Linked DNA regions of Homo sapiens: region 2 is linked to region 1. Evidence: fine-mapped expression QTL. A gene starts in region 1. The other region holds a variant in brackets. All regions are shown on one strand. Distances are from middle to middle. Region 1 holds the start of PXYLP1 (2-phosphoxylose phosphatase 1). Region 2 overlaps PXYLP1 (2-phosphoxylose phosphatase 1).

Region 1 (5,372 bases):
GAGTCTAGGGAGTGTATGATGCCTGATTCCATGAGGGCCTGAGGCTATCCCTATACCAAGTGTGGACCTAGGGAAGGGGGTGGTACAAAGACACAGATCTCAGATAGGTTAAGGAGGAAGCTGAAAGCAGAAAGGGCCTGTGTCCTATCTCCAGGCTGAGACTCTGCCCCCACAGTATGCCCTGCGCTGTCAAGCAAAGCGCTGGTGTGGCAAATTTTGCAGAGAAATGGCTAGAGATGGTGCCCTGAGTTACCTTTAGTCCCCTTGTGACAGAGAAGGGATCCAAGAGTGCCTACATGCTCCCTGCTGAGGGTGATAGTGTGTCCACGAGTGAACCCACCTGCCATGGAGTCACAGAGGCTGAGAGCACAGCATGGACATGTGGCCCAATCCTGCAAACAAAGCCAGGTCCAAGGCTAGTTGCAATGGCTGGCAGAGAAGCTGATTTTCTGCTAGAACTAGAGCTGTGAGGCTGTGAGCCTGGATCTGCCAGGGTCTCATGTGCGCATGAAAGCGTAGTTCATGTGGAAGACAGCAAAACTGAGACGGGGAGTCCCTGAGACCCTGGGACTAAAGCCAGGCCTGAAGCAGACAGGCTCTTCATGTACACAGCGGATCAACCCTTTGTGATTTAAGTTAGTGTGAATTGGGTTGTCTTTTACAGCAGAAAGCACCTTGACTAACCCATGTAGAGAAGAGGGTGACAGTGTGAGCTAAGCAGTAGAGCCTGCAATCCGTGAGAGGACAATCAGAAGGGGCAGAGGAGACATTGTTGGGCGGGCTGCGGTGGGCTTCTGTGGGGGCCAGGTGGGAGAGTTGGGGGTGATGCCAAAGGGGACAGTGAAAAGATTTTGTGCTCATGGATTGGGAGAGGCTGTCAGTATTCAGGGCAGAAAAAAGGCCCGGGATAGCGCTGCATCGGGGGAATACCAGAGGCGGACAGGCAGCAAAGTCCGGTACTGACGAGCCATTAAGGCACCTGATGAAGAAGGCATGACAGGTGGCTGAGAGAATGGCGAGACCACGGGGATAAATGGAGTTGGGAGCTTGGAAGAGGTAAAATTTAGTGCCAGACGTGGTAACTTGAGGAGGAAAGTTCTAAGAAAAAAACCGGAGGGTAGGGGGAAATATGGCTAACATATCTGAGCCAAGTGTGTGGATTTGAGAGCCATCAATCAAGGAGAGAAAGCAGAAGTCAAGGGATGAGATCCTCCCAAAGGTGCACCTCAAAGGTATATAGTAGCAAATTCGAATCCGTATCTATTTTGCCTGAGGCTAGTTGTGCTAGGACACACAGGGTTGCTGTAGACCTCGAGCTGACAGCAAAGACCTCTCTGATAATCGCTGTTGGTCGTTTCATCTCCCACAGAGAAATCTGGTGGAAATCTCCACCAGCTGGAACCTAACATTTGCAATAAATGACCCACAAATACTGATCAAACCAAATACAACCGTTCGCCTATCAGATGTCTAACGGGGCGTTACAGGCAGCCCTCAAGTGCTCTGAGGATCTTCAGCAGCGGCTCCAAGGAAGCCGCGGGCCGGGAGCAGGTGGGAAGGGCGACTGCGCGGGGCCACGACCTCCCCGGGTCTCTGCAGACCGTTGGAGACGGAGCAGCAGCGAGGACTAGAGCAACACAAGGCCGGATGTGTTCTGAGCCGGAAGAGGAGTGTGGGATAGGCCGAAAGGGGTGGGGGGTGGGGGGTGACAGTTTGGGTCTACGTGGCAGCAGGCGCACCCCAGACGCGCGCGCCCACCCGGCGATAGCATCAGCGGCGCCAGGGCAGGCACATGGCCCCAAAGCACCCACACTAGGGCCCGGGCCGGCCAGGGCTGTGTTCCTGGGCCTTGGCGCGCCTCCGCGCAGTCCCTGATCGCAGGTCAGGAGTTGTGAGGCACGCGAGAGCCCTGCGCGTCTGTGGTCGTGGTCCCTGCGCGCTCGGCTTGTCCGTGCCCGTGGCTTTGCACGCCGAGGGCTCTGCAGACTGACCAGTCTCTCCGGGCTGTGCTGGGCCTCCCAGAGGCAGTGTCCTCTCAGCAACCCCGCGCGGTCGCCCCCGCCCAGCCGCACCGCAACACCGCCTCCGGGGCGGAGCTCCAGGGCTCCTGGTGCAGGGCCGGCCGAACTGAGACGGGGCGCGGCGGGGTCGGCAGGGGGCGCTGCCGGGCCCCGCGAGCTCCCCGGTGGCGGGTGCGCGCCGCCCTCGCCTCCCCTCGCGCCGGGAGGAGCTGGCGGCGAGCGCCGAGCCGGGCGCGCAGCGACGGAGCTGGGGCCGGCCTGGGACCATGGGCGGTGAGTGCGGCGCGGGCCTGGGCCGGGGCGGTTGCCGTTGGGGCCGAGCAGCGCAGAGGTTCTAGGCGGGTGGGCGTCCAGGGTCCGAGGTTGGGAGACTGAGGGGGTCCCCCTAACTCGCCAGTGGGAGAGGGGCGGGAAGGCTGGGGGCGCTTCGAAGCGTCGGGTCCGAATCCCGCGACTAAGCCTCCTCCTTTATCCCCGCGCTCGCCCCTGAGCCTAGGACTTGCGCCCTCTTTCCTGCCACTCCCCCCGTGCGCCCGGTGTCCCAGCCCCGGCGCCCGCCCCATAGCCCCCTTCTCCCAGAGCTGGCGCCGTCTCACGCCCGCTGCGAACCCCCGGCTCTGTCTCCAAGCCCTCGCCCCCCGCAGCCCCGCACTCTCCCGCGGAGCCCGCCTCCACCTCGCCCCCGCCCTTCCAGCCCTCTCCCGCACGGCCCCCGCACTCCCGCCGCTGGATTCCAGCCGAGATTCAAGCTCCCGGGATCCCCCTTCCCGGGCGGTCCTGAGCCGGCTAGTCTCCAGGTAAGGAGGCGGCCGCAACTTCGCGGCCTTTCCCGGAGACGGGGCTGGCTCCTCTTGGCAGCCACCTGCAGCCTGACGCCTCCGGGAGTCCCGGGCCTGGCCACGGGGCCGCCCGAGCGCAGGTTAACATTCCTGGATGCGCAGGTTAGGACCGTGTGGTGTAGACCCACGACGTTGCTTTTGCTGGTGAACTTGCCTATGTCCTGATCTTTTAAATAAGCTGGGTTTGTCACACACACACACACAGAGAGAGAGAGAATGGATTTGCTTAGGGTAGGTTGCCTGCTTTGCAGCCGCAGCTGCCTTTTAAATTGTACCTGTGGATGGTAAAGGATTCACGGTGCAGGACGTGGAGCCATATTTTCCCGCTTCGGCTGTGAGTTCAGCGATTGCGAGGGGGCTCTGTAGTGAGTGAGGTTATCACCGCCTGGCTAGCCAGTGTCTTTGTGGAAAGGCAAGGATCCTTTGTAAGCATTCAACAAGTAAAATCAGGAGAGATGGGGAATCAGATCGAGCTGTGAATGGGGAAGTGTAGGGGGGTGGATGGGGGATCGGAGAGTGCTCCACAAATGGAGCCGTTTGTTGATATTTGCAGAAGGCCCGTGGGTGTGAAGCTGGCAGTGCGGAGCCCACCCTTTCAAACGGGATGCGACTGCGGTCGGGCTTGGCAGTAACTTACCCTCCTCAGAGGTGTTGGTGCCCAATCGGGACATCTGTGGGAAGGGGATTTATAGCAGATGGATCAAAAGGCCTCGGGCGCGGTGGCTCACGCCTGTAATCCCAGCACTTTGGGAGGCCGAGGCGGGCGGATCACCAGAGGTCGGGAGTTCGAGACTAGCCTGACCAACATAAAAACCCCGTCTCTACTAAAAATACAAAATTAGCCAGGCGTGGTGGTGCATACCTGTAATCCCAGCTACTCAGGAGGCTGAGACAGGAGAATCGCTTGCACCTGGGAGGCAGAGGTTGCAGTGAGCTGAGATTGCGCCATTGCACTCCAGCTTGGGCAATAAGAGCAAAACCCTGTCAAAAAAAAAAAAAAAAAAAAAACCCTCGTGGTCCCTGGAGAGAGGTGAAGATGCACGGGACAGCCTGAAAGCCAGTGTATGAATCTGCCCCATCCCTTCTCCTGGCTTTCATTAAGTCTTGGATTAAATTAATTGCTTATCTCAGAGAAAGGATGTGTAGGGGGAACTTCTCTGTTAGGGATTGGCTCCTGGCCAGCCCATCCTCACTGATGCCTTGGGAGGCTGCGTTTGGGCACCAGGAACAGCGTGGGCCACCTGGCCTTTGGAGCACAGCACTCCGAGTGTTTGTGGAACTGCAGTATCTGTAACTCTTTTTTCTATTGATCAGCTTGAATAGTTAGCTCAATATTACTTCACTATTGATTAGATAAGTAGCCCAAGGACATACTGGGGCTCAGTAGGGTCTCTCTGTCCAGAAATTCCCGTGGGCTTCTCCTTGGCCCTCCCTACACCGCTCTGTGATGAGTCGCTGTCAGATGCCCCACTGTGCAGGAGCATCTTCAGGGATGGGTGGAAGGAACCACCTCTGTGGCCCCAGGTCCCTGCCTGGTCCCCCCTGTCTACCACATAGGGGTACTCAGTGTTTGTGAGGAAAAAAAATGGATGCCCCGGTGAATTAGTCTGAGTTCACAACCAATGTTTTCTACACTTTGCTACACTGTTCAAAATGTTACCCTTAAATTCAACAGTTTTTTTTTTTTAATGTGTCATATCACCAGAGACAAACTCATTTTTGTGTGTGTTTGGAGCAGTGAGTGCAATCTACGGATCAGTCTCTGATGGTGGGTCGTTAACCTCAGTGGGGACTCCAAGATTTCCATGAAGAAAATCAGTTGTCTTCATTCAAGAATTGGGGTAGGTGGTGGTGGGCGCCCTTGGAAGCTACTAAGTTTGTCTGCTGAGGGTTGAGTCCACCATAGCTTAACCTATAGTGCCCAGAGCTGTAGCCCCAGTCCCCTTTAACATTTCCTATCCCTGCCCACTGACGGAGGAAGCTCCCAGGGAGACAGGGTACCACTTGCAGAGCCCCACTGGCCACTTCAGATTGCACCATCCCCACTCCAGTGGGTGTTGCTTCCTGTGGCGAGCTGGGAGTGCCTCTTCTTGCACATTTCTGGCACTGTGGCTTGCAGCTCTATTGGTGGGAGGGAGGTTGGTGTTTTGGGCCAGTGCTTTGGTCTCTTGGAGGTGGCTATAACCCACTGGCAGATGGGGCAAGGTCCAGCTCTTGTGCCTCTGTCAAAGGCCACCCCCAGGCAGTACAGCCAAATGCTGAGGGGGTGGGAACACCTCATGTCCCCCTTTTTTTGTGGGGGAATCTGGAAAGGGCTAAAATTGAGACTGCCACTTGGCTGTGGGAGCCTGCACTGCCCCTGGCTGTCACGAACTTATCTTTCTTACCCAGATTGTCTCTGTCTTCAGGTCTGGCTCAGAATTCCTGCAGCTGGTGAAAATCTGTTTTCTAGAAGAGGTTTAATTAATGCCTGCAGTCTGTGAGTAAGAGAAAGGGAGGAGAGGGAGAAAGA
Region 2 (5,372 bases), 54 kb after region 1:
AGTGAATGACTTGAAGGCTTAAGATAGTAACACTTTTGATTATTTCAGTTTTCATTATGAAAGCAGATTTTCAATGAGCCCACAATAATATGAGTTTTTCCTAAAGAAAAATTTATTTTCATGGATATAATTATGTCTGCATTAGTCAGGGTACACCTATTTTGTAAGTTTATTTTGTAGCACAGGGACTCATGAATGCATTACCTTAAATAACAAGGAAGTTTAGCTCTTCCTCATGTGAAGGTCTGAAATGTGTGTTCCAGATTGTGCTAGTCAGCTCCACCTGGTCATTCAGGGCCCCAGGTTTCTTCCAGGTTGTTGTTTCTACCATCCCCTGGGGATGGCTACATGGTTGAACCCTGGTTGCTGCCATGCCTAAATAATGGCTGGAAGGAAGGAAGATAATGTGAACCGGGCATACACATGATCAGAAAGCCTGAACCCAGAAGTGGCATACATCTTTCCGTTCTGTTGGCGAATGCGGCTTTACCTCATTTCAGGACCTCAGAAATAGGATCTAACCAAGTTCTTAAGAAGAGAATAGATTTTAGTGTACGACTAGTACACTAGTCTCATCCACACTAGCCTTTAGTTTTAATACAGTCATCCATAGAGGATTGGTTCCAGGATCCTCCTTGGATACCAGAATCTGAGATGCTCAAGTCCCTTATGTAAAATGGTGTTGTATTTACACAGAACCTGCGCACATTCTCCCATGTACTTTACATCATCTCTAGATTACTTATAACGCCAAACACAATGTAAATGCTGTGTAAATAGTTGTTATTTGTATTATTTTTATTGTTGTATTGTTATTTCTTATTGGGTTTTTTCCAAGTATTTTTGGATCCACAGTTGAATCTTCCAATGCAGAATCTGAAGAGATGGAGGGCCGACTATATTTTCATCAAAATCTGAATATTTTAACAAACCGTATGGGAACTTATCGTATTCATTTCTACAGATTATGGAAGGCTTGCTATTTTCATGAAACATCCAAGGATGGGACACTTCACAGTTGAATTCACTCACATATATTTTTAGAGCATCTGCTATGTGCTAAGCACCCTCTGGGCTCCAGGGATGGAGCAGTGGACCAGGCAGACAAGGCCTGGGTAGTCAGATCCAGGTCCAGGACTCGAGTTACCTGGTCTGCTTTCCACTAAAAAGATACAGCCATTTGTTGTCAAATGTTTTTTTTCTTTTTCTTTTTCTTTTTTTTTTTTTTTTTTTTGAGACAGGGTATCTCTTTGTCACCCAGGCTAGAGTACAGTAGTACAATCACAGCTCACTGCAGCCTCGACCTCCTGGACTCATGTGATCCTCCTGCTTTAGCCTCCTGAGTGGCTGAGACTATAGGCCTGCGCCACCATGCCTGGCTAGTTTTTGTATTTTTTGTAGAGACATGGTCTCACTATGTTGGCCAGTCTCAAACTCCTGGCCCCAAGCAGTCCTCCCACCTCGGCCTCCCAAAATGCTGGGATTACAGGCATGAGCCACCATGCCCGGCCTGTTAGCTATTCTTTAAATGAAGTTTTTCTTCCACAAATCTTCATCTTTGCATGCCAAAAACAAACAACACAACAACAACAACAAAAAAAAACAAAAATAAAAAACATTGGAATGAATGCAGTTAGATATCATTAAGCAGTCAGATGCCCTGAAAACCTGGGTCACCTCAGCAAACACTTCCAGTCATGAAATTCCATTTCTAAAATTGGCAGCAAAGCTTTCTCAGATCCTCAAAAAAAGCTCCAACCTGAAATAATGGCCTGGTGCAGAACATTTGACTCCTGTTGATGGATAGCCTTTGTTTATGTGGATTACTCTTGGCAGCCTCATTGTCAGTCTGGACATTTTATTTCCCAGTTTGCAAACATTTATGTGCTTTAGCCTCAGGCAAAATAACGTACCCTGTTTTTGTGGAAAGGCATAACTCCCTTTAGCTATCCAGGGTGATTTATTAGACTATATTACATGTCTGGATTAGTATTCTCTAATTTAAAAACGTATTTTTAAAAGATGGATTTTTTTTTTAGCTTTATGTTGTTGATAGATAATAAACCCATTTTGGCAGCCATTTTTAAAGCACTTTCAAAGTTAACTGGGCCTTCAGACAGCAGGGGTTTGCCATTAGAACAGTTTATCTTTGCTTCTTTTCATGCTGATTCTTATAGAGTTTAGGCATGAACTACTCTATCTGTCCACTTCTCTTCAGCTGGAAAATGTATATACATTCATAGGCTACTTCATTATTCAAAGAAAAGATGTTTATATTCATAGGTCATTTCATTATTCAGGGTAATTGTATATTAGTGACTAGAAAGATTTACCACATATACTTTGTGGCAGAAATATAGATACTCTCAGATCTCATATATAAACTTTTTTTGACATTTATTATTACCCTATATTAAATGAGAGGTTGTATGTCCAAAACGTGGAGTGGATTGTAAAGAGGTATAGAGATCCTGGTTATCTTATTCAGTTAACAATTTTCCTAAAGGGGGATTTTTCAGAGGTCAGAAAAATTAAGGATTATGGGTGACCTTGATAAAGGATAGGGTAGATTTTCTAGGAGGAAGGGATAGCTCGTGGGAAGTGGTGGAAGTGTTGAAGAATGAGGTGCGTTGTGTGTTGGAGGAAAGAAGGCCTTTGGCTTGGCGTGGCCAGAGCACAGTATTAGGGTAGAGAGGGCCAGTGAGTACCAGGGCGAGGCCAGAATAGAGGGACAGGCTGTGTGTGGCCCCTTCCAGAAGGTGGTGATAGGGAAGGGCAGTGACTGGTCAGAGTTACCTTTTAAATCAATCCTTCTGGTGGTGGAGAAGGCAAGATTATTAGAGGGGCATGCTTAATCAGCAAGAAGACCAATAAAGAGCCCATTGCCAGCCAGACAAAAGCTGCCTGAGGCCAGAACCTAGGTAGTAGCTGTGAGGATGAAGGAGAAGGGGATGGAGAAGCACCAGGAGAAAGAATCTGCAAGACATGGGGAGCAGACAGCATGTGCAGGGGCAGGGAATGGAGAGAGTGGGACGATGCCCAGCCTAGGCGTGACTGCTGGGTGGGTGTTGGCGGCCTCCCGGAGAGCGAGCCC[G/A]GAAGGCAGCACAGGTTGGGGAGCCGGAAGATAGACGGCGAAGCTGAATCCCACAGTACTGAGTTCAGCAGAGGTTAGGAACTCTGGCCAACCTCACAGAGGGGATTTCATGTGTCAGTGTCAGTGGTCGAGAAATAATGAAATTGGAACTGAAAAGTGATTGAGCCGGTACCTGTTACTGTGGGTGCAAAAGGCTGCGATACACGTGGGATTTGGCTCGCTGAAGCTGGAAACTGTTTGGATTCTTGTGGAGCACTCTGACCTCTAACTCTCTCTATCATCTCTCTAGGAAACCGTATCACCCAAAACTGGAAGCTTTCATTAGTCACATGTCAAAAGGATCCGGAGCCTCTTTCGAAAGCCCCTTGAACTCCTTGCCTCTTTACCCAAATCACCCATTGTGTGAGATGGGAGAGCTCACACAGACAGGTATGTGTGACCCCCATGCGCTCAGGGGTTCCCCCACCCGCTCTTCTGCTTGCATACCTTCCGAGCAGTTCTCCTGGGCGGGGTGCTGTGCAGCTCAGAGGGGGTAAGCAAGGACTGGCTCTGCAAGGAGCTCGGTCACCAGGGCCTCTAAATAAACATCAGAGTTCTCAAAACTAAATAGAACCTTTCTCCTTCTTACAAAAACAATACGTGTTCATGAAAATAATTTAGGAAAGACAAGTAAAAAGAAGAAAAAGTTTAAGCAACCGTAATTCCACCACAGAAATAGACCCTTAAGAGTAACCCTTCTTCCTGTGCTTATGCACACACACACATCTTACTAAACACACTATTTCATAACCCACTTTTCCACTCAACAACACATTTTGTTAATATTTCCCTATGAATAACTGTTTATCCACTACATCATTTATGATAGCGCCATATTCTTTCACTCTGGATGGGCAATTGATCATTTATTTAACTAATCTCATGTTCTCAGATATTTCTAACAAAACTTCTAATAGGTTTTCATGTACAAGATCTCAGGGAGGAAAATGCATGGCACATTTCTACTGCATGTGGAGTTTGTTTGGCTGAGCTGAGTTCTCACAGAAGCACAGCTTTCCCTCCGCAGCCCTAGTCAGACCATGTGCAGTCAGTTCACCATCAGGGTAGGTTGGTGAGTTAACTGTGGAGTCACCTTTGCTGGGAATAGAGGAACAGGTGGTCCTTCAAGAGGTTTCAGTTTTCTGATTCTTCAATCTGGAACCTCAGAGGACCTTTGCCTGGTCACCAGCCTTTATGGGTGAATTGGGAAGACCCATTGGCCATGTTCTGTCTTCATCTTGCATCAGCATCTTAGGACTTCAGCAGGGATGGAGGGAAGGTCTCCATCCTATAGTAGGCCCTCTTAGGTTTTGCCATTATTATTGGGGAAATGATATTGGATAGACAGAGTGGAACAAGCTGAAGCCTCTGGAGGACTAGCCGTGGATAAGGAGTTGTGTCAAAAGCCTTTGGCAATTAGTTCCACATGCATTACTTTAGAACGAGGGTTTTCATCCTAGCAGATCCAACACCCCCTTTGATTACACAATTAACTATTTTGCAATCTCCCTCAACTATCATGAAGTGAAATTTAAATATAATGTAACCAGCCAGGCATGGTGCCTCATGCCTGTAATCCCAGCACTTTGGGAGGCTGAGGCAGGATAATCGTTTGAGCCTGAGGGTTCGAGAGCAGTCTGAGCAACATAGTGGAACCCCATCTCTACAAACAATTTTTTAAAATTAGCCAAGTGTGGTGGCATGTGCCTGTAGTCCCAGCTACTCAGGTGGCTGAGGCGGGAGGACCACTTGAGCCCGGGAGGTCAAGGCTGCAGTGAACCATGATCATGCCACTGCACTCCAGCCTGAGTGACAAAGTGAGGCCCTGTCTCAATGAATGAATGAATGAATGAATGTAATCTTTCTATGCAGTTAATTACTTAAAAGTTATACCAGGGTCCCCAGCGATAACAAATGAAAAGAAACTAATTTACTACCTAATTATATGTGTCTCTGTATAAATGCTTAAGAACAGCTACACTAGAAAATAGAATGAAATCTTCAAATGCTTGTACCTAAATGTGACTCTGACAACTACAAATGCAGATGATTGATGGATGCTGTATTGTTGACTCTTAATACCACATGTCAGGACATGGTTTTTCTGAAGTTCTGATCAAAACAAAATATAGATGTTCCTTAGTTTATATTGTATTTCTGGAAAATTCAGTGAACATTAATATTATACAAAAATGGTTTTGTGTTCTAGACACAAAAACAGAATTAGATTCTACAGTCT

What was found. PIP is the estimated chance that this variant, and not a neighbour inherited with it, causes the effect.
Region 2: its variant is fine-mapped to the expression of PXYLP1 in whole blood (TOPMed, PIP above 0.99).

Annotation. Positions count from the first base shown.
Region 1 is chr3:141,229,618-141,234,989 of GRCh38, forward strand. It overlaps PXYLP1 (2-phosphoxylose phosphatase 1), which reads left to right and starts at 2,208. Exons shown (of 6, transcript NM_001037172.3): 1 at 2,208-2,294. RefSeq lists a silencer at 1,947-2,326.
Region 2 is chr3:141,283,931-141,289,302 of GRCh38, forward strand. It overlaps PXYLP1 (2-phosphoxylose phosphatase 1), which reads left to right. Exons shown (of 6, transcript NM_001037172.3): 5 at 3,384-3,523. Among named protein-coding and RNA genes, the nearest start is that of PXYLP1, 55 kb to the left of the region's middle. The variant G/A (reference allele first, on the strand shown) is at 3,095.